4 linked regions of the Homo sapiens genome follow. The protein of the gene in region 1 interacts with the protein of each later gene in a pairwise test. Each region holds a gene or a part of one and is shown on either strand. Other genes may lie near its edges. The genes, in order: ZMYND19, TOX4, SAXO1 and ENOX1.

Region 1 (7,100 bases):
CAGCCTCCCGAGTAGCTGGGATTACAGGCATGTGCCACCACACCTGGCTAATTTTTGTATTTTTAGTAGAGACAGGGTTTTGCCCTGTTGGCCAGGTTGGTGTTGAACTCCTGGCCTCAAGTGATCCACCCACCCCGGCCTCCCAAAGTGAGCCACCACACCCAGCCCCACCTCTCTATTTTCAAACATGCCAGACATGTCGCAGCTTAGGGCCTTTGCACAGGCCGTTCCTTCTGCCAAGAATGTTCTGCCCTGTATAGCCACACGGCTCACTCTGTCTCCTTCCACTGCAAGTTCCAATGCTGTTTTCTCAGAGGACGGCTCTGCCCACCCCTGCAGCAGGGCCTCTGACTGCCTTATGGTGATGGACTTGTTCTCCCCATTGCACTTCTCACTGGCCAACGCGGTGTATGGTTCCTCATTACGTGTATGTTCTGCCCCCCTCACTCGAGTATGAGCAGGGGCTTTCATTGATTTTGTTCATTGGTGTGGAGCAGTTTCAGCAGTGGGAGGGGTGAAAGCCCAGCTGGAGTGGGCTGTCAGGAGACTTGGGCGGTAGGCAGAATGCCCCCCAAAGGTGTCACGCCCTTATGCCTGCGCCTGTAATATTATGTTACATAACAAAAGGGACTTTGCAGATGTAAGTAGGTTACCAATTAGTGACCTTAAAATAGGGAGATTATCCTGTTTATCTGGGTGGACCCAATCTAATCACAGGAACACTTAAAGGCATAAAGCTTTCTCCAGCTGAAGGTGGGAGAAATGGGACAGAAAGGATCAAAGACGTGAAGTAGTAGAAAGGCTGGCTTTGGCCGGGCACAATGGCTCACACCTGTAATCCCAGCATTTTGGGAGGCTGAGGCGGGCGGATCACTTGAAGCCGGGAGTTCAAGACTAGCCTGGCTGGCATGGTGAAACCATGTCTACTAAAAATTTAAAAATTAGCTGGGCATGGTGGAGGGCACCTGTAGTCCCAGCTACTCGGGAAGCTGAGGCAGGAGAATCACTTGAACCCGGGAGGCGGAGGTGGCAGCGACCCGAGATTGTACCACTGCACTCCGGCCTGGATGACGAAGCCAGACTCTGTCTAAAAAGAAAAGAAAGTCTTGCTGGTTTTGAAGATGTGAGCGACCTCTAGAAGCTGAGAACAACCCCGGGCCGGCAGCCAGCAAGCGGAGACCTCATACAACCATGTGATGAATGTCAACAACCTGAAGGAGCCTGTAGCCCGGGTCTCCCCTAGGGCCCCTGCTAAGAGCTGAGGCAGCTGACACCCTGATTTCAGCCCTGAGACCTGCAGCAGAGAAGCCAGTCAAACCCACCTGCACTTCTAATGCACAGAACCGTGAGATAATGGGTGCTCTTTTGTGGTTGGTTGTTATAAAGTGATAGAAAACGAATTAACTAGGAGATAAGAGGAGACGCCAAGTACAGACAACCTGTTAAAAACTCTTGCTGGGATGGGAAGTAGGAAAATGAGGCAGTGGCTGGAAAGGGATGGGGGAGTCAAGGGCTTCTTTTTAAGGTGCCTGCCCCTGGGAGAGGGAAGCTGCAGTGAGAGGAAGCACCGCCCCAGCGTTACATAATTCCACCCTCGCAGGACACAGAGGCAGGGGTGCCACATTCATACTTGGGTAGAATGTGTAGATAAAGCAGCCGGCTTGTGGTGGACCAGGTATGAGTTCCCAAGCCAGCTGGGCACTGCCCGCAGCACTGCGCTGTGTCAACACCTGCAGGTCTTTCTCGGCTTTGGAGCCAAGAAGTCACCTTGCCAGGAACAGCCTCCAACCAATGACTGCAAGGTGAGAGGTGAATGCTGGGTCCCCTTGCAGCAGGGTGAAGGGTGAATGCCTTGGCTCCCCTGGCCCTCGGGGAGGGACTCTGAGGATGGTTCCTACACAAGCGCCTGCTACAGTAACTGGACTGGTAGCACCCCCTTCCCTGCCTCACACCCCTACTCTCCTGCTGGTGTCTCCTGGGGTCTTCTCTCAAGCTAACAATTTGGACTTTTTTTTTTTTTTGACGGAGTTTCACTCTGTTGCCCAGACTGGAGTGTGGTGGCACAATCTTGGCTCACTGCAACCTCTGCCTCCTGGGTTCACGCGATGTTCCTGCCTCAGCCTCCCAAGTAGCTGGGAATACAAGTGTGTGCCACCACATCCGCTAATTTTTGTATTTTTAGTAGAAACGGGATTTCACCCTGTTGGCCAAGCTGGTCTTGAACTCCTGACCTCAGGTGATCCACTTGCCTCGGCCTCCCAAAGTGCTGGGATTACAGGTATGAGCCACCAGGCCCGGACAAAATTTGGACTCGAATCCATTTCAAGTCAACCTCTGGGGGAACCTGGACTATGACACCAGTGCTTTTCAACTACCCTAGGGAGCACCCACCAAGCTCCACTTCTTTTCACAAAGCAGTTGCTCATAATCTCATCACACCCTTGCAACTCCATGAGGTTGAGATTGGTAGGGCAGGTACTTTTTTTTTTTTTTTTGAGACGGAGTCTCGCTCTGTCGCCCAACCTGGAGTGCAGTGGCACGATCTCGGCTCACTGCAAGCTCTGCCTCCCGGGTTCAAGCCATTCTCTTGCCTCAGCCTCCCAAGTAGCTGGGACTACAGGCACCCGCCACCACGCCCGGCTTTTTTTTTTGTATTTTTAGTAGAGGTGGGGTTTCACCGTGTTAGCCAGGATGGTCTCCAGCTCCTGACCTCGTGATCTGCCCGCCTCGGCCTCCCAAAGTGCTAGGATTACAGGCATGAGCCACCGCGCGCGGTCGGACAGGCATGTTTTGAGCAAGGCCCAGCCTGAACCCCAATGTGTGTCTCAGGCAGGCCAGGACTCATCAGCCCCTTCAGTCCTCTAGGGTGTCTGGGGTACTGGCAAGTACCAGGGGACCCAGAGATGGAACGTCTGGGCTCACTCATGTACACCCTTTGCAGGCTGGGGCACGGTGGCTCATGCCTGTAATCCCAGCACTTTGGGAGGCCGAGGTGGGCCGATCACCTCAGGTTGGGAGTTCGAGACCATCCTGGCCAATATGGAAAAACCTCACTTCTACTAAAAATACAAAAATTAGCCGGACATGGTGGCGCGTGCCTGTAGTCCCAGCTACTCGGGAGGCTGAGGCAGGAGAGTCGCTTGAACCCGAGAGGCAGAGGCTGCAGTGAGCCGAGATCGTGCCACTGCACTCTAGCCTGGGTGACAGAGCAAAACTCTGACTCAAAAAAAAAAAAAAAAAAAGCAAGAAAAGAAAACGGAACCCAGCAAGCCAGAAAGGAGCCTGTGCAGCTCCTCAGGTGCAGGAGTCGCCCTTGAGGCAGGGTGAGGCCTCCTCACGGGCGACTGGACACCGGCGGAGCAGGACGCAGGACCTAGCCCCGTTCGCTCCAGGCTGCAGGGGAGCCACGCTGCCCACCACGGCGTACCCAGTCCCTCCCTGAGCGGGTCTCGGCTTTCCCGCGGAGCCTAATGGGCCTCACTGGAGTTCCGTTTCCAGACGCCTTGGACCAGGCTGCTCTGGAGGTCAGCCGCCCCCGAGGCTGAAGAGCCGGCGGCTCGGAGAAGGCTGCGCGGGAGGCCGCGCCCTCCGGGTCGCGTGGGCCGGGCGTCCGCTGTCTCTCCAGAAACACCCGCGTCCCGCGGCAACGGCCTCTTCCTAGCCCGCCTCGCCCGCTCCCCGCCCGCCCAGAGGGCCCCGCACGAGCTCCGTCCACCTCCTCCTTCCGCGCTCGGGGCCAGGACGGCGGCGGGAAACAGCTTACGGAGGCTACCGCAAGGGAGGCGAAAAGCAGCCAGCTCGCAGAGCTCCACGGACCCGGCGCGAGTCCCCAGCCACACTCCGCACTGCCCCTCTAGGCGCGGCGCCGCTGCCCGCACAAAGCTTCCCGCGAAACTGACGTCGGCGCGCGCAGGCACCGCCCCCGGCCTCGCCCCTCCCCCGCGCTCGCCCCGCTCCCCAGAGCGCCGGCGCACTCGCCCTCCTCCTATTGGTTGTTGCGGGGCGGCGCGCGCCGGTCGGCGCCGTGCGCGCCTAGCCATTGGCCGAGCGGCGGCGGGCCGGGGGGTGTGTCCGGGGCTGCGCCCCGCCCCTCCGCTCCGCTCGCTGTGGTGCGCGCGGTGGCGGTGGCGGCGGCGGCGGCGGCGCGTGGCAGGTCCGGCGGGCGCGAGGCGGCGGCGGAGGCCCGAGCCCGGCCCAGCCTCGTCCCGCCCGGAGCCCGCCTGGCTGCTACCCCGACCCCGGCTCCGGTCCCGTCCTGTCCCGGCGCGCCGCGGCCTCGCCCCGGCCCCCGCTCGGCGCCTCCCGAGGGAGCGGCGCTGCCGGCCGAGAGCGCAGGCCCGGCCATGACCGACTTCAAATTGGGTATCGTGCGGCTCGGCCGGGTGGCCGGGAAGGTGAGCGGCGCGGAGCCCGCGACCCGGCCCGTCTCGCCCGTCCAGGCCTCCGCGCGGGGCCGGGGGCGGTTGTGCGGGCGGCGGCCGGGGCGGGGGCGCGGAGCCCGGGATGGGCCCCAGCGGGGCGGGGGACGCTGCGCGGGCCCGGCTGCTGGCCCCGCGCGGGTGCAGCTTCCTCTCGCAGGCCGGCGGGCACGCACCCCTCGGCTCTGGGGTGCACCTGGCCACCCTCGGCCCTGCCCTGCCGGAGGTGGAGGCCACGGCCCTGTCCCGAGCCGGGTGCGGAGATGCGTGGCTCGAGCCCGAGCCGCGTTCTCCCGGAGCCCTCCCAGTGGTGTCGGCGATCCGGGGCCTAGCGCGGCGTCCGGGCTGCCAGTGCGGCCACACGGTTTAAACACAGCGCCCTTTCCGAGGCAGCGCCACTTCCACACCTCTCGCCGAGGCGGGTCTGGTGTGGGCTCTTCTGTGCCTCCCAGTTCTCAGCAGGGCTTCAGGCTCGTTTTAACGCTGCCAGGGGTTGGCCACGTTAGGCTGAGCCTCAGACTCGGAGCAGAGAGGAAGAAGCCTGGGCCCTGATGCTGCAGACTCAGGGCCTTCCTCGACTTCTCTTCTTACTTGGCCCCCACGCTCCACGTTTGAGGCTGGGGATTCCATGGCACCTGTGGGCATTGAGGCTTGGCGGTTTCTCGGAGCCACCTGTGCAGCTGCACCAGCCAGGGTCCTTACCCGGATGGGAGCCCTGTTCCCGTCACCAGCGGCTGCGGCTTTTGGTGGGAGAGAGGAGCCGAGGCAGTGTCAGGCGGCGTCAGGTAAAACAGGTTCAGATCCCAGAAGAAAAACTGCCAAGAGGGAGACTGGCCCGTTCTGGGACCTGTTCCTGTTTCCTGCCCCTGCTGCAAGAGCATAGGCAGGGCCTGCTGGGGAGGAGGCTTTTTTCCACCAGGGAAGGGTGGGCTCTCCAGTCAGGTCGGAGACCAGAGACCCCTTCTAACTCCACCCATGATGGCATTGTCATCCCTTACAGCTTTTCTTTGGAACATTTCAGATGGACAAAAAGCTAAAAAGGGTAATCAGTGAGTAGCTCAGCTTAATAAACACACCCTAATCAAAACCTTCTGGCTCTTCTGCCTCAGCCCCGGCCCCTCCCTCAGCTCAGTGAAACAGTCTTTGCCTAGGTTTATTGGTGCGTTGAATGTTCAGTGCCACTGTTGGGGTTAGCCCTGCGAGGATGAAGCCTGATACCAGCTCCTCTGGCGCAGACTAAAGTGGGCAGCTGGCTTTTAACCTGTCTGCCTGTGTTTTGTCGTAGACTGCACCACCCCAAACGGTGGAATGAGGCCCCCATGTGCTGAGCTGTCTTGGTCTGAAGAGGCCTGTAGTTACTTTCCACTTCACAGGAAAATGCAACAGGCTCCTGCCTGTTCTGGTTATAAGGTTACTGCACCTCACGCAGATCCCAAATGTAATGATTTGAAACATGTGGTTAACTTCCAGACCAAATACACGCTGATCGATGAGCAGGACATCCCGCTGGTGGAGAGCTACTCCTTTGAGGTAAGTAAGGATGGCTGTTCCCTCCCCTGATGCTCGTGGTCAGTGCCCAGGAGGGTCACGAGGAACGAGCTCTCTCCCCTGTGCTGCAAGAGCAGGCGGCCCCACAAGTGGACAACTGGTGCTGGCCTGTGAGCCCTGAGCCGTCAGCCCCACTTCGAGCCGTGGCCCTGCAGAACCTGGCTGTTGCTGCCACTGGAGCCCACTGTGGCCCACATGGCCTGGCGACAGTGGTCTTCCTCACTTTCACCCCAGCTGCCAGCTCCTCTTGAAAGCAAATGGAATGTTCTCATGTTTGTGATTGTGTCACGTGGACCATGTCTGTTAGCTCGAAGACCCTGCTCTTTAGAGCTAGCCACCTCTGCTGGGCCTGCCTTAGCAGTCCCTCCTGGCTGCCCAGCTGCCTCCCGTTCTCTGCTCTCATGGGGTCTTCCTGCCTCTTCCCAGCTTCCATTCCTGCCGCTGAGCTTGGCCTCCCTCACCATCCTTTATCTCTGTGCCCCACACATTCACAGTAGTGACCTCTCCAGGGGGTTCTCTATCTCACTGCACCGTGGGCTTTTTTTAAGGGTAGGAAAATGTATTTGTCTATGTCCCATTGTATTTTGCAGAGTTGTTTGTGAGTGTTTCTTGCTCGAATAGACAGAGTGGTGGTGGGCCACGCTGGCCCCTGGGAGCCATGTGCCTGTGGGAAGCTCTGCACTCCCCAGGGTCTCAGGGACAGGGCTGGCATTTGTCCCTCTGGCTTGCTTGTTTCACTTGGTTTTTCTAAGAGGGAATTGAAGTGTTGCTGAGAATTGGAGGTTTTTTAACAGCTCTTTCCCTTGTTCCTTCTCAGGCCCGAATGGAAGTGGATGCAGATGGAAATGGTGCTAAGATATTTGCCTATGCCTTTGACAAGAACCGAGGAAGGGGCTCTGGGAGACTCCTTCATGAGCTGCTGTGGTGGGTGTTTCCAAGCTGTCTCTGCCCCCCGCCACTGGGCTCCTGGGTGAGCTCCGATGGCACAGGGCGCCTGGAGCCCCCTGCCCCGCTGAAGCCCTGCCTTGCCTTCCCTGAATCTCGCAGTTATTTTTGTGTCCTTCACCACTAACCCAAAGGAACGAATGATTTGTATGTTGCACTTCAAACACCAAGTGGACTTTCTGCTGGGAG
Region 2 (7,023 bases), on another chromosome or scaffold:
TAAGACAAAAGAGACGGTAATGGTAGAAAAGAGATAAAAGAATTGAAAATTGTGACTGATGTTAGCAGCCTTGAATGTACCAAATGACCAAGGGTATCAGAAGAGAGATTGGTAAAAATAATAGGTTCTAAGAAATTGATTATAAAATAGGATCCTAAGCAGAAAAAATGCATCCTGAGAATCTCTAGTACCCCATTATGTTCTTCACTTAGTAGTATGCCATTTCTCCTCTTTTCACTAATTCTTTTCCCCCTTTTTTCCCCTACAGACATTCCATACACCAAGCTTGGGTGATGAGGAATTTGAAATCCCACCTATCTCCTTGGATTCTGATCCCTCATTGGCTGTCTCAGATGTGGTTGGCCACTTTGATGACCTGGCAGACCCTTCCTCTTCACAGGATGGCAGTTTTTCAGCCCAGTATGGGGTCCAGACATTGGACATGCCTGTGGGCATGACCCATGGCTTGATGGAGCAGGGCGGGGGGCTCCTGAGTGGGGGCTTGACCATGGTAAGGGGCAAGACATTGTCAGGCTTACCCCAGCTAATGGGCATGGCATTAGGGGAGACAAAGTTACTCTATTCCCTGCTACACTTGGGTATTACTTGTTTCTCTTCTTGTGGCTAAAGGCTCACCAACAAAGACTTAATTTCACCTGAATAAATGAAATTTACCATGTAGGTAGATTTTACTTGAAAAATAATTTAAAATTGTACAATGTCTGGTTTGAAAATTATTTATTGTGGTTTTTGGGAAAAAGTGTTTTCTGCTTTTATTATGGCCTTCACATCCTAGGATTCAAATTTGAATGTGATAGCTGGCACACGGAGGGATTTATTCAAAAATGGCCTGAATCACGTTGAGCAGCCAGCAGAACAGAGCTTAAAAAAAAAAAAAAAGTCTGAGCCAAATATAGTATTGTGGATTAGTATGTAATATAAATCAGTATATTGGGCTTCCAGCACATCGAACCAGTAAGCACATCTTCATACTCTATATTTGATGCCAGACTTTAATATTGGCCTTATTTATGCTGATTGCCTATGTATTACAATTTTAAAAGCTATTATTTTGGGAGAGTACAGATAGGAAGTTTTTCTTTACTCAATGTGTTGTCACTACCTATATATTACTGAATAAGTTGATAGCTCTTTGACTTGTCCAACAGTGCGACTTCTCTGATTATTTTTAGTTCTTCTTTTGAGTGCAAAGAAGTAAATTCATTAATTTCTGTACTTTTTTAAAAAGCTTATTTTTTTATTTTCATTTTTGAAGACTATTTTATGTTTTGTATTTTAAATGATACAATTTGGGTAGGCAGGGAATTTATAAGCTGTCTTAAATTTAGGGGGGAAAAGTGGTTTTTTTTATATTTAGTGTTTAATTAGTCCTTCTGCTTCTCTCAGGACTTGGACCACTCTATAGGAACTCAGTATAGTGCCAACCCACCTGTTACAATTGATGTACCAATGACAGACATGACATCTGGCTTGATGGGGCATAGCCAGTTGACCACCATTGATCAGTCAGAACTGAGTTCCCAGCTGGGTTTGAGCCTAGGGGGTGGCACCATCCTGCCACCTGCCCAGTCACCTGAAGATCGTCTTTCAACCACCCCTTCACCTACTAGTTCACTTCACGAGGATGGTGTTGAGGATTTCCGGAGGGTGAGGCATTCCCTGTCAAAATCAATTCTGCTGTGATAGTCTGGGATAAAATTTTTGGGATACAGAGCCTAATCAGTATTCTTTACCCTTGCCGTGCCATCTCCTCTGCTGTTTTCTGGGTATGGGGTTCCACCTCCCAATTTCCAGTTTATAATTCTCCTCTCAATCCCTATTCTTATTGGTTCTCCATATTTGACTAATGTCTTTTAATGCTATTTCTATGATTTTTAGCATTTCTGAAAATTCCATACATGTGGCTAGTTTCCAGACATAATACTTGTCATTGTCCATTGTGTAATTCTCTCTTTTTTCTCTCCTACAGCAACTTCCCAGCCAGAAGACAGTCGTGGTGGAAGCAGGGAAAAAGCAGAAGGCCCCAAAGAAGAGAAAAAAGAAAGATCCTAATGAACCTCAGAAACCAGTTTCAGCATATGCTTTATTCTTTCGTGATACACAGGCTGCCATCAAGGGACAGAATCCTAATGCCACTTTTGGTGAGGTTTCAAAAATTGTGGCCTCCATGTGGGATAGTCTTGGAGAGGAGCAAAAACAGGTGAGCAAATATTGAGGAACTAGTAGTGAATGTTCCAGAAGTTTTTAAAGAGATAAAAATTGAGGTTTTCTTTTTTCTTACATGTCCTTATCTAATATCAGCTGTTTGTTAATGACACTTAAATATCATCCCTTGTCTTCGAAGTTGCAGCCATACACTCACTCCAGAAAACCTATTTAAATTTTTTTTTTTTGAGACAGAGTCTCGCTCTGTCACCCAGGCTGGAGTGCAGTGCCGTGATCTCAGCTCACTGCAAGCTCCGCCTCCTGGGTTCACGCCATTCTCCTGCTTCAGCCTCCCGAGTAGCTGGGACTGCAGGCGCTTCCACCACACTGGGCTAATTTTGTTTTTGTATTTTTAGTAGAGACGGCGTTTCACCATGTCAGCCAGGATGGTCTCGATCTCCTGACCTCGTGATCCACCCGCCTCGGCCTCCCAAAGTGCTGGGATTACAGGCATGAGCCACTGCGCCCGGCCTATTTAAAAATTATTAATAGGCTGAGTGTGGTGGCTCATGCTTTTAATCCCAGCACTTTGGGAGGCCAGGGCAGGAGGATTGCTTGAGCCCATGAGTTCGAGACCATCCTGGGCAACATAGGGAGACCCCCGTCTCACAGAAAATTAGCTGGGTGTGGTGGCATGTGCCTTTGGTCCCAGCTGTGGAGGCTGAGGCGGGAGGATTGCTTGAGTTCAGGATATAAAGGCTGCAGTGAGCCATGTTTGTGTCACTGCACTCCAGCCTGGGTGACAGAGCAAGACCCCGGCTCAAATAAATAAATAATAATTGTTATAGGCCGGGCGCGGTGGCTCACGCCTGTTAATCCCAGCACTTTGGGAAGCCGAGGCAGGCGGATTACGAAGTCAGGAGATCAACACCATCCTGGCTGACATTGAAACCCCGACTCTACTAAAAATACAAAAAAATTAGCCGGGTGTGGTGGCATGCCTCAAATCCCAGCTACTCAGGCGGCTGAGGCAGGAGAATTGCTTGAACCCGGGAGGCAGAGGTTGCGGTGAGCCGAGATCATGCCATTGCACTCCAGCCTGGGCAACAAGAGTGAAACTCCATCTCAAAAAATAATAATAATTGTTACAGAAGTACTGCATCTTTACAATAACTCTCAAAAATAGCTACCATTTCCCGCTTTTAAGGTGGAAACTGGAGCCCACTGCCCAGTTAAGGTCATATAACATTTAAGTGGTAAAGTTGAGACACAATCCAGGTTCTTTAACTCTTCCCATGTACTTTCCACTAATAATGTCTCCTATAATTCCTCATGTAGTGTCCTTCTGTTCAATTTTTAGATATTTAACTTTTCTAAGTCTCATTTTTTCCCCCATTTATAAAATTAGGCTATTACTTGATAAGCTGCATGCTGTGGCTAACTCTCAAATCCACTACCAAGTTTGGATTTAGAATTACTTGTTTGTTTGTTTTTGAGATGGAATTTCGCTCCTGTTACCCAGGCTGCAGTGCAGTGGTGCAATCTCAGCTTACTGCAACTTCCACCTCCTGGGTTCAAGTGATTCTCCTGCCTCAGCCTCCCAAGTAGCTGGGATTACCGGCATGTGCCGCCACACCCAGCTAATGTTGTATTTTTAGTAGAGACAGGGTTTCACCGTGTTGGTCAGGCTGGTGCCAAACTCCTGACCTCAGGTGATCCGCCTGCCTTGTCCTCCCAACGTGCTGGGATTACAGGTGTGAGCCACCGCACCTGGCCTATTTTTTTTCTTTCTTTTTCTTTTTTGGATTTAGAGTTTAAAAACTTTTTAGAGCTAGCCCAGATTCAAAGGAGGGGGAAATAGGCTTCAGCTCTTGAAGGGAGAAAGGTCATATGGGAGGAGTTGTTGTGGCCATCTTTGCAAACAATTTACCACATTCCATAAGGGAAAATATACTGGTTAGACACAGTCCCAGGCTAAGACACAGTTTTTGGATTAGGGTTTATTTTGTATTTATTTATTTATTTTTTTGAGACAGAGTCTCACTGTGTCGCCCAGGCTGGAGTGCAGTAGCACAATCTTGGTTGACTGCAAGCTCTATCTCCCAGGTTCACGCCATTCTCCTGCCTCAGCCTCCTGAGTAGCTGGACTATAGGCGCCCATCACCACGCCGGGCTAGTTTTGTTTTTGTTTTTTTTAGTAGAGATCGGGTTTCACCAGGTTAGCCAGGATGGTCTCAATCTCCTGACCTCGTGATCTGGCCACCTTGGCCTCCCAAAGTGCTGGGATTACAGGCGTGAGCCACCGCACCTGGCAGATTAGGGTTTATTTTTGTTACAGAAGTGAGCATGGGTTGATGTTTGCCTTAAATGTAGCTATTCTCGGCCAGGCGTGGTGGCTCACGCCTGTAATCCCAGCACTTTGGGAGGCAGAGGCAGGCGGATCACAAGGTCAGGAGATCGAGACCATCCTGGCTAACACAGCGAAACCCCATCTCTACTAAAAATACAAAAAATTAGCCGGGCGTGGTGGCGGGTGCCTATAGTCCCAGCTACTCAGGAGGCTGAAGCAGGAGAATGGCATGAACCTGGGAGGCAGAGCTTGCAATGAGCCAAGATCACGCCACTGCACTCGAGCCTGGGCGAGAGAGCACGACTCTGTCTCAAAAAAAATTTAAAAAAAATAAAATAAATGTAGCAAAATAAAATAAATGTAGCTATTCTTGCCAGACTCCTGTCGATTGGTTGTCTTTCAGAGGTATGCTCAGTGGAGTGAGTCTGCCATGGAGGTTGTCTTGACTGTTAGCTTTCAGAATTGAATTCACTGATAGAGGTTGTCAGTGATTAGACTAAGATGAATTGTCATTCATTGATAAATAATACAGAACTATCAGTCTTTCCTAAGAGTATGGGGAGTTTTGTTTTTTTTTTTAAAGTCTCTTTTTTGCAGGTATATAAGAGGAAAACTGAGGCTGCCAAGAAAGAGTATCTGAAGGCACTGGCTGCTTACAAAGACAACCAGGAGTGTCAGGTAAGAGGGATAGGATAGAATGAATATTTAAACCAGTAAGAAGTTTTTTGGAAGTGTTTGTTAGCAGTTTTAAGAAGTAAATACCACCAAGTGATTGATTAATTGATAGATTGATTTATGTCTTCTTTTAGGCCACTGTGGAAACAGTGGAATTGGATCCAGCACCACCATCACAAACTCCTTCTCCACCTCCTATGGCTACTGTTGACCCAGCATCTCCAGCACCAGCTTCAATAGAGCCCCCTGCCCTGTCCCCATCCATTGTTGTTAACTCCACCCTTTCATCCTATGTGGCAAACCAGGCATCTTCTGGAGCTGGGGGTCAGCCCAATATCACCAAGTTGATTATTACCAAACAAATGTTGCCCTCTTCTATTACTATGTCTCAAGGAGGGATGGTTACTGTTATCCCAGCCACAGTGGTGACCTCCCGGGGGCTCCAACTAGGCCAAACCAGTACAGCTACTATCCAGCCCAGTCAACAAGCCCAGATTGTCACTCGGTCAGTGTTGCAGGCAGCAGCAGCTGCTGCTGCTGCTGCTTCTATGCAACTGCCTCCACCCCGACTACAGCCCCCTCCATTACAACAGATGCCACAGCCCCCGACTCAGCAGCAAGTTACCATTCTGCAGCAGCCTCCTCCACTCCAGGCCATGCAACAGCCTCCACCTCAGAAAGTTCGAATCAATTTACAGCAACAGCCTCCTCCTCTGCAGATCAAGAGTGTGCCTCTACCCACTTTGAAAATGCAGACTACCTTAGTCCCACCAACTGTGGAAAGTAGTCCTGAGCGGCCTATGAACAACAGCCCTGAGGCCCATACAGTGGAGGCACCTTCTCCTGAGACTATCTGTGAGATGATCACAGATGTAGTTCCTGAGGTGAGCCTTTGTTTTTAAGTCTTTAGTCTAGTGGAAATGTATAAAAATGTTTTTGGTTGACCCAATAACAGTGGGGGTTGCTACTAGCATTTAATGCCCAGCAACCAGGAGCACAAAACATCCTGCAGATGGGAGTTCCTTGCAGCAGTTGACTTCTCTTACCCAAGGTACTCATACTGTTTTTTTTTTGTTTGTTTGTTTTTGAGATGGAGTTTCACTCATTGCCCAGGCTGGAGTGCAATGGTGCGATCTCGGCTCACTGCAACCTCTACCTCCTGGGTTCAAGAGATTCTCCTGCCTCAGCCTCCCGAGTGGCTGGGATTACAGGCATGTGCCACCATGTCCGGCTAATTTTGTATTTTTAGTAGAGACGGTTTCTCCATGTTGGTCAGGCTGGTCTCGAACTCCTGATCTCAGGTGATCTGCCTGCCTCGGCCTCCCAAAGTGCTGGGATTACAGGTGTGAGCCACTGCACCCGCCCTGTTTTGTTTTGTTTTGTTTTGTTTTTCTTGAGACGGAGTCTCGCTCTGTTGCCTGGGCTGGAGTGCAGTGGTGTAATCTTGGCTCACTGCAATCTCCACCTCCTAGTTCAAGTGATTCTCCTGCCTCAGCCTCCCGAGTAGCTGGGATTACAGGCGCCCACCACTACACCCAGCTAATTTTTTGTATTTTTATTAGAGACAGAGTTTCACCATGTTCATTGGGCTGGTCTTGAACTCCTGACCTCGTGATTCGCCCGCTTCGGCCTCCCAGAGTGCAGGGATTACAGGCGTGAGCCACCGTGTGCCCCATAGTGTTTTTAGTGAGATACATTAAGACAGTCTTCTGCCCCAGACCACTCCTTAACTAAGCAGAGGTCACTAGTTCAACTGGACAGGATATAGCCTAAACAGTTATTATTCAGAGTTGTTACCCAAGGATCCTAAACTTTGGACATGCAAAGCTTTT
Region 3 (6,984 bases), about 120 Mb from region 1:
TCAGCAGGTCCACTCAGGGGATGCCAAGAAACCTGATCCAATTCAAGGTGTAGTTTCATGTAAGGGAATCATGGGAGAAAAAAAAACTAGGAAGGTAATTTAGGACCAGTTTCCAAACACAAAAATGAGAGAACCAGGGAGGTTGTAACCGGAATAAAAGGGAAGGGACCAATTAAAGAAAGATTACAATGGAGGAGGGACCCAGACTTTAGAAAAGAGTCAATGTGCCAGGCTCGGTGGCTCACGCCTGTAATCCCAACACTTTTGGAGGCCAAGGTAGGTGGATCATTTGAGGTCAGGAGTTTAAGACCAGCTGGCCAACATGGTGAAACCCCATCTCTACTAAAAATGCAAAAATTAGCCCAGCATGGTGGTGGGTACCTGTAATCCCAGCTACTTGGGAGGCTGGGGCAGGAGAATCGTTTGAACCCAGCAGGCGGAGGTTGCAGTGAGCAGAGATCGCGCCACTGCACGACAGAGTAAGACTCCATCTCAAAAAAATAAAAAAAATAAAAAAATAAGAAGAAGAAAAAGATTCAATGTTCTGTTTGAGGGAGAGTAAGAGATGATTCAAAATTTTCACCCAGGGTGAATGGAAGATTGCTGGCACCATGAATGGGGCAGATACCAGAATAATGTTTGAAGGTTGTTGAAGTTGAGATTAATGAGACAGATGGATCACCAAAGCACTTTGAGAAGATGAAAATGAAACTGGAATTCAGAAGACAGGAGAAACTATTGGCTGAAACCATAAAATGGAGGAGAAAATACAGGATGAGGAGAGAAGAAAAGGAGAAGAGACACAAGAACAGACTCTGCTTCCAATGGAAAGTGACTCCTTTGCAGGGACAGAATGAGAACAGAGTCAGAGAAGGAACACCCAAATGAGTCATAACCCTACTGCAGGGGCAGGAGGGAGACTTCTCACTATATATGCTCTGCACCTCTTAATGAGCATTCTGCCTTCCTACCTAGACTGCACGCTGTGCAAAGATGGAGACTATGTCTTATACATTCAATCCCAATGCCTAGAACAATGCAGGAGGACACAGGAGGGTAATGTAAAGCATCCCAGTAGAAAGAAGGCCTTAGTGGCTCATGCCTGTAATCCCAGCACTTTGGGAGGCCGAGGCAGGCGATCACCTGAGATCAGGAGTTCAAAACCAGCCTGGACAACATGGTTGAAACCCTGTCTCTACTAAAAATACAAAAATTAGCCAGGCATGGTGGCATGTGCCTGTAATCCCATCTACTCAGGAGGCTGAGGCAGGAGAATCACTTGAACCCTGAGGCATAGGTTGCAGTGAAGCGAGATGGCACCACTGCACTCCAGCCTGCGCAACAGAGCAAGACACTGCCTCCAAAAAGAAAAAAGAAAGGCGGCCTTAGAAAAAAAGGTTTTGCTTGGTAACATGTAGTCCTAGACTATACACTGCTCTGGCCCCACTTAACAAAGCTCAAAAGCAAGACCCACGTTTGTACATGATCTAGTTCAGTGAGTCCCAGTCCTAGCAAATGGCCAGAATCACCTTTAGACAGTTGACAGGGCCCACTCTGAGAGTATCAATTCAACGGCCTGAGCAACTGATAGTTTTCAAACTCCCTGTGTGATTCTAATCAGCAGCCAGAGTTGGGAACCATTTATTGATGCCAGAGATATAGAAGGTTGCTGATCCAGTTTTTAGAGTGCCCTTTAATTCTCCACACTACTGATACCATTTTTATATGCATGTGTCATATTTGCCCTTTTTTCAGATTTCAGGACACTAACATATTAAGCACAATCCATGTACCAGGACTCACATACATGATCTTAACTCTTACAATAGTCCTATGAGGTACGTATTGTTGGTACAGATGAGGCGACTATGACCTGGAGTTTAGTTACCAATCTAAGATCCCACAATTAATGACAGCCCAGGAAAGGTGACCTCAGAACCCTCTTGCCTGTTGCTCCTCTGCTGCCCACTCCCTGCCCCAGCCAAGCAGAAACCCAGCTGCCCTGGGAAGCAGATAGAAGGAGCCTCTAAGAGATCATGTGAGTGACAGCAGACCAGTCAGCCCGTGGGACTCTGACTAAAGTCCATGATTTCCCCCAGGACCACCTTTACTGCGCTTCCACCCAAAGATGGTCCTTAAAGGTTAGAAGGGAGACCTGGCAGGCCAGGCGACTGTGAAAGTAATGTTTTCATTATCCTTATTCAACTCTACACAATGTGGAACAAGTTTTACTAATACCTTATACTTCTCTGACAAAGTAACAATCTCTCTGAATGAGAAATTCAGTTATACTACAGGAATTCTCCTCCCATCCTATCACTTTCCCAAAAGGAGCAAGACTGGTCCCACTGGGCCAGGTGTTCTCCCTCCTTGGCTGACACTTTCTGGGCTTCAGGGAAGGGAGTGCAGACTGCGCGGTCACGCCCATTTTCAACCCTCCTGCAGTTCTCAAGTGAAGCGGCACAGAAGGCCCGAAAACAGCCACATTCGCCAGAACTGATGTGGCGTCCGCGGGCACAACGCTAGTTGACACAATTGTGGCTTAAAAAACGTAGCAAGTGGACGAACCCACCGTGATGCCGCCTGATGAAGCAGCTGGGGGAGGCTTCCCTTCCTCGGGAGTCTGAAAACCCAGGCTCCCCCAGCCTTGCCCTGGGCGTGGCCACCTTACCCGCAGGAGCACAGTTCACAGATGCACTTCGTCTTCATAGGGGCGATCCTGAGGCCCTGACGTCCCCTCAGAGCATCGCCAGCTGCAGCCGACTCCTAGACCCCAACCACCTGTCTTGGGGCACGCCCAGGCTCGAGGGTCTTGGCAGGTGTTCTGTTTACTCGAAGGAAAATTTAAGTGGCCCTTTTGCAATGTCCTGTCGTCTGTTGCCCTCCTGGAGCTGGCCTAGCGCGAGGTAGCAGCAGGGGGCTTGCACGCGCGCCAGCCCGGGAGACCTCACCCTGCACGCCACCGCCCCGGCCTCCGCAGTCCAGACTTAAGCACCTGGAGCGGCTGACTGGGCCCCAGGAAGCTGCGGGGTCCGTGCCCAGGTAGCCTCTGTGATGTCGCCAGGGCCAGGAGGGGCACGCCTCAGGTGGCAATTACATCACAAGAGCCGCTTGTGAGGTCGGGAAGCTCCCAGCACCTCACTGGCAGGCCCAGGACAGGGGTTCCCCGGTGAACCTTGGAAAAACCTGAAAAAGGTGGAAGTCACTAGAAAGCTCCTGGTGCAGTAAACGGTCACACGTGCAGAAAAGCTGAAAACTCCCTCACCATCACCTTGGGTGGCATTTGCTATCTCTAGGATCCATGGTGCCCCCTCTTAGGGGAATACAGCCTTGACTTCCAAAAGGCTTGCCTTGAACAGGGTTTCCAGATCTTCCTGTGGAAACCTAGGCCTTTGGCTTCAGATGTCTGTTAGAATTGCTCTCACCCACAGACCTGCGCTCTTGAGAACACAGTGGTTTAAGAGCGCCCAGGCCTTCACTGCTCAGGTGGGTTCTCAATCACTTCTCCAGATGCTGGTAATGATGCCTTGAAGCAGGCGTTCTCAAATTCTAGTTGGCATCAGGACCACCTGGCTTGATGAAAACCAGATTGCCAGACCCCACCCCCAGTTTCTGATTCAGTGTTTCTAGGGTAGGCCAAAGACTTGCATTTCTTACAAGCTCTCAGGTAATGCTGGTTCTGCTGGGCCACGGACCACACTTTAAGAACTACAGCTTTTGAGGTTCCTTTACACCCCCTGGAATAGTGTTTCTTCAGCTTACCTGATCCCGAGAGCACACCCCCACCCAGAAGTCTCCCTTGCATCAAAACCTCTAGTCCGGGAATCTAGCTTCAACAAGAAGCCAGGTGATTCTGGTCATGAAGCAAGTTCAAAAGACACTGCTCTGGCCAGTTGTTTGGACTTAAAACATTTTGACTTCCTGCTTATGGGAAATGGGAGCTTAAAGTATTGACAATCTTTATGCTTTTCTTTCCTATGCTTCCTAACTCTTTCCATTCATTTTAGTGAATGAGTCAGTCAGAGGCATCTTGGACTGCAAGACACTTAATATTCAGAGGGTTTCTTTTTGTGTGGGGGGGGTTAGGTTTTTTCCTTCAGTAATAGGCTCTAGAATAGAGGTCAGCAAACTATTGTCTGCAGTTGGCCACTTGACTCTATCTGGCCATTGAGCTAAGAATGGTTTTCATATTTTTTAATGGTTGAAAAAATTAAAATAATAATATTACATGACAAATGAAACTTACCTAAAATTCAAATTTCAGTGTCTGTGAATAAAGTTTTGAATTTTTTCAAAAAATTTGTGTAAACATTCCCGATTTTGCCTCTTGGCCCACAAAAGCTAAAATATTCACTATCTGACATTTTACAGAGAGAGAGTTCCAACCCCAGTTATAGGAAGTCAGCAAGGTAGATTCAGACAGGAGCAAAGCTTATTGATCATTCTTAAGAACAGTGGGGTGGGAAGCTGCTCCTTGCCTTCCCAGTAGGAAGTCAGAACTCTACAGGGGAGGATGGAAACATGGCCAGACAAAAAAGAGGTGGGAGCTATTGGAAGTCAAAGCAAAACCTGCATGCCATCCATTGCCATTGACAGAGAACATCACACAGTCCTTACAGAGGAAATACAGTGCTGGACACCAGCCTTCTCTTGATGGCTGCCTAAACATTATCCATAAATCTTTCAGCAGAAGAATGCCTGTTCATGCCCCCTGCCATTCAAACTGCCCTTGTGGGTGGCCACCTTGTCAACAATCATGGTACTCCCCACTTCCTCCATCCATGCCCTCAATAGAGGGTAGAGATCTTGAAAGATGAAGATGGTGTGGACAAAATAGCCTCAACAATGATATACCTAAAGATCAGTGCTAGACAGTAGGGACAACCTCCCCTCACCTAGTTACACTTACTGTCCATCTTTTGTTACATCCAGCCAAACTTACCCTGACCCATCTGATATGGTTTGGTTCTGTGTCCCCACCCAAATCTAATCTTGAATTGTACTCCCATAATTCCCACATGTTGTGGGAGGGACCCAGTGGGAGATAATTTGAATCATGGGGGCGGTTTCCCCCATACTGCTCTTATGATAGAGAATAAGTCTCATGAGATCTGACGGTTTTATCTTCATTTTTCTCTCTTGCCACCCGCCATGTAGGAAGGGTCTTTCACCTCCCACCATGATTCTGAGACCTCCCCAGCCATGTGGAACTGTAAGTCCAATTAAACTGCTTTATCTTCCCAGTCTCAGATATGTCTTTATCAGCAGCATGAAAATGGACTAATACAGTAAATTGGTACCAGCAGAGTGGGATGCTGCTGAAAAGTTACCCAAAAATGAGGAAGCAACTTTGGAACTGGGTAATAGGCAGAGGTTGGAACAGTTTGGAGGGCTCCGAAGAAGACAGGAAAATGTGAGAAAATTTGGAACTTCCTAGAGACTTGTTGAATGGCTTTGCCCAAAATGCTGATAGCGATATGGACAATAAAGTCCAGGCTGAGGTGGTCTCAGATAGAGATGAGGAACTTGTTGGGAATGGAATCCAAGGTGATTCTTGTTATGTTTTAGCAAAGAGACTGGTGGCATTTTGCCCTGTCCTAGAGATCTATGGAAGTTTGAACTTGAGGGAGATGATTTAGGGTATCTGGCAGACGAAACTTCTAAGCAGCAAAGCATTTAACAGGTGACTTGGGTGCTGTTAAAGGCATTCAGTTTTATAAGGGAAGCAGAGCACAAAAGTTTGGAAAATTTGCATCCTGACAATGCAATAGAAAAGAAAAACCTTCTCAGCAAACTAACACAAGAACAGAAAACCAAACACCACATGTTCTCACTCATAAGTGGGAGCTGAACAATGAGAACACATGGACACAGGGAGGGGAACATCACACACTGGGGCCTGGCGGGGGGTAGGGGGCTGGGGGAGGGAGAGCATTAGGAGAAATACCTAATGTAGATGATGGGTTGATGGGTGCAGCAAACGACCATGGCACATGTATACCCATGTAACAAACCTGCACGTTCTGCACATGTACCCCAGAACTTAAAGTATAATAAAAAAAAAAAAAAAGAAAGAAAGAAAGAAAAAAGAAAAGAAAAACCTGTTTTCTGAGGAGAAATTCAAGCTGGCTGCAGAAATTTGCATAAGTGACAAGTAGCCAAATGTTAATCCCCAAGACAATGGGGAAAATGTCTCCTGGGCATGTCAGAAATCTTCACAGCAGCCCCTCCCATCACAGGCCCGCAGGCCTAGGAGAAAATGGTTTCATGGGCCGGGACCAGGGTCCCCATGCTGTGTCCAGCCTAGGGACTTGGTGCCCTGCATCCCAGCTGCTCCAGCCATGGCTGAAAGGGGCCAACATAGAGCTTGGGCCATGGCTTCAGAGGATGCAAGCCCCAAGCCTTGGCAGCTTCCGCATGGTGTTAAGCCTGTGAGTGCACAGAAGTCAAGAATTGAGGTTTGGGAATCTCCGCCTAGATTTCAGAGGATATATGGAAATGCCTGGATGTCCAAGCAGAAGTTTGCTGCAGGGTTGGAACTCTCATGGAGAACCTCTGCTAGGGCAATGTGAAAGGGAAATGTCCCTACTGGGGCACCACCTAGTGGAGCTGTGAGAAGAGGGCCAGCATCCTCCAGACCCCAAAATGGGAGATCCACCGACAAATTGCACTGTGTGCCTGGTAAAGCCACAGACACTCATTGCCAGCCCATGAAAACATCCAGAAGGGAGGCGGTACCCTGGAAAGCCACAGGGGAGGAGCTGTCCAAGACCATGGGAATTCACCTCTTGCTTCAGCGTGACCTGGATGTGAGACATGGAGTCAAAGGAGATCATTTTGGAGCTTTAAGATTTGACTACCCTGCTGGATTTCAGACTTGCATGGGGACTGTAACCCCTTTGTTTTGCCCAATTTCTCCCATTTGGAATGGCTGTATTTACCCAGTACCTATATCCGCATTTTATCTAGGAAGTAACTAGCTTG
Region 4 (7,423 bases), on another chromosome or scaffold:
GTCACTGCTTTGTTTTTCATTCACAGTAGGTGGTTGCCAGGCAACAAAATACTATTGTCTGTTTCCATGATCTATTGGCCAATTCTACTGGTGATAATGCTTTCTACAGTTTAAAACAGGGCCACCTTTTGGACAAAAAGAAATGAGAAAAAATTCTAAGGATGACAATAACATATATACGAATAAATACACTGAATGTACCCTAAAATTACGTGTATAAATATACAACTGTGTGCTGATAGACATACAAATATTTTGCATGTATGCATATGTGATTATATACATTCTCCTACATACAAACCCATCTAAATTTAATAGGCCCACAACTTGAAACTAAATCCCTTAGGGAAATCAAGGTATGAACTAGAGAAATAAAAACACAGAATTATTTTCTTAACAATAGCAATAATTTCCAATTTGTCACATATATCAAATCCTGTTTCTTGAATAGGAGGTCCTCCAGTCAGAAAAGCAATCCTGTCTACTTATATAAAAATGATAATAATGGAAAGCCTTTACCATCTACTTTAGAATCATGTAATACGTTTAATATGTTGATTTACTATCATATGCTACCAATGTGTACAAAGATAATTCAAAGAGTGTTGCTGTTTACAACCAAGAATCTTAAATTTTATTCATCTTAAAAATAATTGAATTGTTCTCCATGGAATAGCCTCATGTGATTCCCCACTTTGTTTTGATATGGGTCCCTGGGGAACAACAGTCATGCTATGTTACTCTTGCATATTTCACTAGCTTACAAATAAAATAACACACAGTGTACTCAATATAAAGTTGTCAACATTAACTTGCATCAGTTGCTGTTTGTTTCACATTGACAAGGCTTCTAAAGATAAGAATTACAATATTCTTAGATGTACAGACACAACATCAAAACAGCCTGAAGGAATTAAAGCTGGAAAATGCTAGAGGCAATCACGCTTTGAAATGAAGAGAAATCAGTATCATTTATACGTACACATATATTTCTTCAAAGGCTCTAAATAATGCCAGAACAATATGCATTTTATGCAATGCTCATCCGTCTTCCCTCACAATATTCCGAAAGCACTTTAACTGTTTAACGCATCTCCTCCAAGAGGGCTTTCACTTTTTCAAACTCATTATCACTTTCAAATCTGTATATTACAAGAAACTGGAATGAGCAATATCCATTACATGAATAGACATTATTAATATAAAGTCTCTATCAAAGTGGCAACGCTAGTAAAACAAAAGCAGAGTGTGTTAACCATAAACTAAGTACCAGCCAATATTACCACTTTGCTTGACAGAGCCGTCTCCAACAGCACGCACCCACCTCTCGAGCGGGCCCACCAGCTCAGCTTTCCAAGCTCGCTCACCTGCGTCTCTCCTCCAGGAATCAATTTCCTTCCCACTTTCTCCACCCTCTTCAGATCCCTTAAGCACGCTTCATTGCTTTCTCCAAACTACCAGACTCAAATCTGCAGCCCAGTTGGCCAGGAACCTTTCCATACGCACGTATTTCCTGCATTCTCCTGGGTCTGCTTTTAAAAATTGCTACCACCAAACAAATGCAATCTTAACAAAATTGGGATTACAAAGCCAGTTTTTTTCATGTAATGTTACAGCAGTGAAAGATTGAGGGAGAGAAAAGGAGAGAAGCAGGAGTGTATCTGGGTGAAGAAGCGTGGCTCAGTGGCTATACAGTGAGACGCAGAGATTCCACAGAGCTGGGCTTGCCCACCTGTCGACCCCACTTTCCCCATGTGCTCGCCGCGGGATGACAACCACAACACTCCAGAACCACCCCCCTTCCGAAAGAGGGCGGGGTTACGCCTTCAGCCAATCAGGACCCGCGAGCCCCGGGTGTCCAACCTATGGGGTGGCTGTGGCCGTGCAGGGGGAGGACGTGGGGTGGTCTGGGAGGGGCCGCGTCCGTGGGAGGCTCGCACGTGTCGGGTCCGGAGAGGCGGGGAGGCGGCCGGCGTCCAGCGGCCGAGGCGCGGGCTCTGCACCCTGGCAGCGGCCGAGTCCGGCTGCCCCAGTGCCTCCTTTACCTCGCGTTGGGCCAGGCAGGGCGCGCTCCCGCCGACGAAGACCTGTCCAAGGTGTCCGAGCTCCCCGCGAGAGGGGACAGTCACGAATAACAACAGTACCCAGCGCAGACTAGGCGGGGAGGAAAGTTTCCGGCCCGCAGCAGAGCGGAGTCCGCCAAGGCTGGAGGAAAAGGGATGCAGAGCGGGAGGGTGAAAACCTGAAAGAAGAGGGCAGCGGGAACACTGTGTGGGCAGGAACGGGTCCCGGGGGCGACGCCCGCAGGGGGAGACGGGTGCGGGGTGCGCTGTCCAAGGTGCAGGGGAGGTGACTGGCGCGCGGCGGGCGCGGAGCCCGGAGCTGACACTGGCTGGCGGGCGGAGGGGAGAGCGGGGAACAGCTGTCTGGGGCGCTGGGCACCCCCGGGCGCGTAAAAGTGAGGGAGCTTGAGACGGGGCACGGCGGGGAAGGGCGTGGGGGCTGCACCGAAGCCCCCACGCGTCCACGCACCCCTCCTCACCAGCCTCACCTCTAGCTCCACTCCCCTCCCCCCTCGCCCACTCCCCTCTCAGTCTAGATCCAGGTGCCGTGGCGGGGGTGAGACCAGAGGACCCCGGCTCGGAGCCCGGACGCCCCAGGGAGGCTGCGGGCCCCGGAGCTGCTTACCTGGGGCCGCCGTATGGGGAGCGGAGGCAACCCGCTGCGCGGAGTGGGGCGCCGGGCGCGGCGCGGCTCCTCCTAGCCTCGGCGTCCTCCTCCTCCTTTGCTTCTCCCGGACTCTGTCCCGGGCACGGAGCTGGGAGACGCGGCCGGGCTGCAGTCGCCGTTCCCTCTGCTGCCGCCGCCGCTGCAGCAGACAGAGGACGCCCCGTGGCGGCTGGAAGCCTGTGTGAGTAGCGGCGCCCGGGAGAGCGGGGATCTGCTGAGGGGCGCTGGAGACTCCGCGGCTGGAGGCGCGCGGGCGTGCGCACGCGCGCCTGCGAGTGTGAGTGTATGGGTGCGCGCGCGCCCACGGGGTGGGGGAGTCGCGAGGGGAGGGGGAGAGAGGCCGAGAGATGCTCGTAGGGACCGAGGCAAAATTCTACGACCCCGGAAATCCGTAAACGCGGGGAAGGAGGATCGAACGCGTGTCTCGCTTGGAGAAGCTGCCCACGGGGCGGCAGCAGAGGAGGAGGGGAAGTCAGCGAGGCGCGCTAGGGCTCCGGATCCCAGCCCGGCAGAGCCGAGCGGAGCGCGCAGCCACCGATGCAGCAGAGGCGGCGCCCGCAGCCCACGGTCGCGCTGCCCCCTCTCGGGAGGGGCCGAGGCCGCTCGCTCCCGCCACCGCCGCCGCGGTCGGGACTGCTCTACTGGGAGCGGGGGAACCGAGAGAGGGACCGCACGGTTGCTACGGCGACCTTGGAGGGGCCGGGCCCGCTGAAGGGCCAAGAGAAGAACCCGGGCGCACGTGGCCGACTCCAGGCTGGAGCGGGCGTGTTACAGGATTGTGGGCTTGGGGTAGACGGTGGAATTGGGCCGCGTGGCCTGGGCAGATGATGCGGGGTGTGCGGCCCAGAGTGGCTCGGCCGGGGTGCGGTCAGCATTCAGGTTGGTAAGGGTGAGGGGATCCTAACCCCAGGTGACATGTTGCCTTTTTTTCCTCCTTGGAGGCTACTTTTTCTCAAAGTTACCCACTTCCCAGGTAAGAATGCCGGCCTCCTCTTTGTTAGGATTCAACTTAGCTGTGCAGGCATCTAAGCAGTGCCTCCTTAGAGTCAGGCTCGTCCAAGAACCGCTCCCACCACCTCCCCACACACACCCACATCCCCCGATCCTCCATCCCAACTACATTGTAATACTTCAGAAATAAATGTTTAAAGCACATTTACATTCTCTGCCTCTTAACAGATATATTGTCTTAGTAGTATACTTTTCCTTGCTTATTTTAAATTCTGAGTGGGATTTTATTCACACAAGCATTTCTTCAAGGGTCGTAAGGTCTGGGTAATACTTGAAATACCCTTTCTGGCAGGAATCCTCAATGCAGGGATTGTGTTTTGCACACTTTTGCATGCCTTCCAGTGCTTAGCATAGTACTCTGTACTTTGTGAGTTCCCTGTAAATGTTGAATGAATGACATTGTTTTCTAGCTTCACGTAACCTGAAGGCAAAGACTTGGATGCTGGGAAAGTCATTACCACCCCACTAGGCTTGCCTGATTTTAACTTATGCCATTTCCTTGTGTGTGGCTATTTTTCCCCCTGGCGGTCAGAACCCCAATGCAAAGAAAGAAAATAATACTTATCCATTGTGCACCCTTAACAAAGGATGCATGTAGAAGCACTCTGCAGGGACCCCAGTGGGATGCCCTGGGTGTGAGGGGGCCAAAGCTCAGAACCTAACCTCTCAAAATGTGAAAGTCAGTGTTCACCAGCAGTTTATACTGTCCCTTCTAGAGCAGAAGGATGGGGAAAACAGTTTTAAGAGAAATACACTTTTGTTTTTTGTTTTTTGAGACGGAACCTCGCTCTGTCACCCAGGCTGGAGTGCAGTGGCGCGATCTCGGCTCACTGCAACCTCTGCCTCCCGGGTTCAAGCGAATTCTCCTGCCTCAGCCTCCTAGTAGCTAGGATTACAGGCGCCGGCCACCACGCTCGGCTAATTTTTTTTTTTTTTTTTTTTTTTTTTTTTTTTTAGTTTTTAGTTTTTAGTAGAGACACAGTTTCACCATGTTTTCCAGACTGGTCTCCAACTCCTGACCTCAAGTGATCCGCCTGCCTCGGCCTCCCAAAGTGCTGGGATTACAGGCATGAGCCACCGCTCCAGGCCAGAAATACACATTTCTAATAGCTTATCAGGTACGCATTTTTCTCCTGTAAAGAGTAGTGTTCATGGACACTGACCAATACATGCAGGGTCACCCCAGACTGCTAATTCTGCTGTCTGGTGTAGCACCAAGTCCACATCCTTCGACCTCGGTATTTCTACAATCATCGTCTTAGAAGCAGAAGTCTTCAATTTTGCATTTCATGCTAAATTTCAATTCCTTTGAACTCAGGCCCGCCTATGAGCTGCTTCTCTCTCCACTCATGATACCACAGCTGTGAAATATAACTGAAATAAAGTGAAAATTAAAATGGATTTATTTGGGTACCGTGTGTTCTTTAGTGGGGGTCCCTTTAACTGATTTATCTACCTTCACTCAATTGACAATCTTCTTAGAAGACATTTGTTGTGATATTGGAGCTTTTTTATTAGGTTGAAAGCTTACTTAAATTTCTCACTTGAAAGGAAGCTCTAAAACTTGCAAAAGAAGCAGAAAAACTCTGATACCGAAAATGGACCCTTGACAGCCAACCTATAGAATGGGTATGAGTCAGAATTTTCCAAAACAATTTTAAAGCTTCATTTTCCTTAGAAAGTTGCTTTTAGGGTTTTGTTGGGCTCAGAAACTAATACCGGAAAATATGGCACTTTGACATGCTGGACTGAAGAAGCAGCCTCAAAGTCTCTCTGACCCTCTCTCTGCCTCCTGTCTCTCAGTCGTCTGTCTCACCCAAAGCACAGGATGAAATTGTTCTCTGAAGGTCTTTCATCTGCCTAGAAACCAGATCTGCCAAAGAAGAACGCACTTGCCTTCCCTGAGTTTTTATTAATCTAACTCACGTCGTAGGAAGAAAGATTGAAGCCTGTCAACACAACTGGACATACTTTTGTCACACTCCTCTGCGGGCCCAACAGACTTTATCCCAGGCCATTTTATGTTCACCAAGCTCATTGAATTCCACTAAAAATTCTTTACTATCCCCCTTAAAATCATCCACATTTCCCTTTCTATTCTTCCCCTATGAAGAAGGGTATATGAGCATCTGTGTACCCCACTGGGTTATTGGGCAATCATTCTCCTGCAATTCCCTTGGATTATGCACATGAAAATAAGTTTTGTATGTCTTTTCTCCTATTAATCTGCTTTTTGCGAGGTGATTTTCAGTGAACCTTCAGAAGGTTGAAATCCCTAGTTTCAACAGCTTCCCAAGTGCTTGTCTTACTTGGTGGGTGGGAGGAATGTTAATAAAGCTGTAACTTCTCTGATGACCACCAAAGGGGACAGTCTTGTCTTCGTAAAAACAAATATAAGAAGCCAGCACCTAAGAATGTAGGCATATCACAAGCTTAATGTATGTTAACTTAAAAATAATGTATGTTAACTTAAATAAGTTAATGTATGTTAAAAGGTAATAGAAGGAAAGAATAACAACATAGATATATAGGTTTCTGACCAACTTAAACATAAAAGTTTGGAGGAGCAAATAGGGTTATATGCTATCATCCCCATAGCTCCTTCTGCTACTTAAGTACTAGGTAATAATAAAATGTACAGCTGAGAGGTTCATTTTTATTTGTTATTATCAGCCGGATTTAAAATCAATAGCATATTTGTAAAAGTTCTATTTTTCTTCCTAAAGGGAATGTTCCTTAACATAACTGCTTTTTTCAGTTTGCAGCAGTGCAGTAAACTAGTCAATCATTAACTTAAAAACACAGGATGGTGAAGGTGTGGGGCCTGTGGAGAAACACTCTAAACTTATTTGATCACAACTGTTTTGTCAGTCTAAACTAAAAAAAAAAAAAAAAAAAAAAAAAAAAAAAAAAAAAAAAAAAAAAAAGGCTTTCTACCTTTAAAGACTGATGCATTTAGACTGTGAGATGTACCGTGAATTCCAAAGTCAACTCCTCATTCTAGGAGCCCATTGCCCCAAATCCTCTGAAGTGAGAAGGCAGGGACCGTTAGCTGAAATGCTGTTGATTTTAGTGGCTGTGAGCACACATAAGGATACAGGTCATTTCCCTTATAATTAGGTCCCAGATCACTTAGTCCATTAGAGTTTTAAATGATAAAAAAAAAAAAACACCTTGACCTGCACCTGGAAAGAAAGTACCAACACAGTCCAGAGTATAGTACAGGAACAAGAAGCAGCCTCAAGTCATCCTATTTGTATCCATGTCTTTAAACATTGCCTTATTCCACATACTATTTAGGAAAACTTAATTCTGACTGGAGATCAGACATCTTTAGGAAGGTAAAAAAAATCAGAGAAAAAAATGTTATAGTTTATACTAAGCAAAACAAGACCGGTTTTCTTTCTTAGTCATCATTGCTGACATTTGGGGTGCAGGTAGATATACTTGGTGTCAGTGGTTCTAACAGTTTATGGAGCTGTGTATTTCCAAGAAACTGAAGAAAGCTATGGATCCTTTCTTCAGGAAAATGAACCTATTAATGTATAAAAAATGTTTAAATAAAATTTCAGGGAGTTAAAGGAACTTCCTCTGAAGCTCACATTAAGAGCTACTGCCTAATATAGATTAATTGCACCATGACATTTTATGGCTAAAGGGAAAAGAATTGGTAGATTTACTA

Evidence for each region.
Region 2: the proteins of ZMYND19 (region 1) and TOX4 interact in binary tests that used the Homo sapiens proteins (3 or more experiments, as listed by UniProt).
Region 3: the proteins of ZMYND19 (region 1) and SAXO1 interact in binary tests that used the Homo sapiens proteins (3 or more experiments, as listed by UniProt).
Region 4: the proteins of ZMYND19 (region 1) and ENOX1 interact in binary tests that used the Homo sapiens proteins (3 or more experiments, as listed by UniProt).

Annotation. Positions count from the first base shown.
Region 1 is NC_000009.12:137,587,507-137,594,606, reverse strand, and holds the start of ZMYND19 (zinc finger MYND domain-containing protein 19), read left to right. Parts: upstream 1-4,094; 5' UTR 4,095-4,343; coding exon 4,344-4,394; intron 4,395-4,419; exon of another isoform or gene 4,420-4,969; coding exon of another isoform or gene 4,970-5,203; intron 5,204-5,888; coding exon 5,889-5,948; intron 5,949-6,783; coding exon 6,784-6,890; intron 6,891-7,100. UniProt on the Homo sapiens protein: May be involved as a regulatory molecule in GPR24/MCH-R1 signaling.
Region 2 is NC_000014.9:21,487,183-21,494,205, forward strand, and holds part of TOX4 (TOX high mobility group box family member 4), read left to right. Parts: intron 1-268; coding exon 269-511; intron 512-1,407; coding exon 1,408-1,668; intron 1,669-1,990; coding exon 1,991-2,221; intron 2,222-5,113; coding exon 5,114-5,194; intron 5,195-5,325; coding exon 5,326-6,075; intron 6,076-7,023. UniProt on the Homo sapiens protein: Transcription factor that modulates cell fate reprogramming from the somatic state to the pluripotent and neuronal fate. In liver, controls the expression of hormone-regulated gluconeogenic genes such as G6PC1 and PCK1.
Region 3 is NC_000009.12:19,030,200-19,037,183, forward strand, and holds the start of SAXO1 (stabilizer of axonemal microtubules 1), read right to left. Parts: upstream 3,011-6,984; 5' UTR 2,710-3,010; coding exon 2,672-2,709; intron 1-2,671. UniProt on the Homo sapiens protein: May play a role in the regulation of cilium length. Stabilizes microtubules at low temperature.
Region 4 is NC_000013.11:43,783,964-43,791,386, forward strand, and holds the start of ENOX1 (ecto-NOX disulfide-thiol exchanger 1), read right to left. Parts: upstream 3,010-7,423; 5' UTR 2,689-3,009; intron 2,243-2,688; exon of another isoform or gene 1,665-2,242; intron 1-1,664. UniProt on the Homo sapiens protein: Probably acts as a terminal oxidase of plasma electron transport from cytosolic NAD(P)H via hydroquinones to acceptors at the cell surface.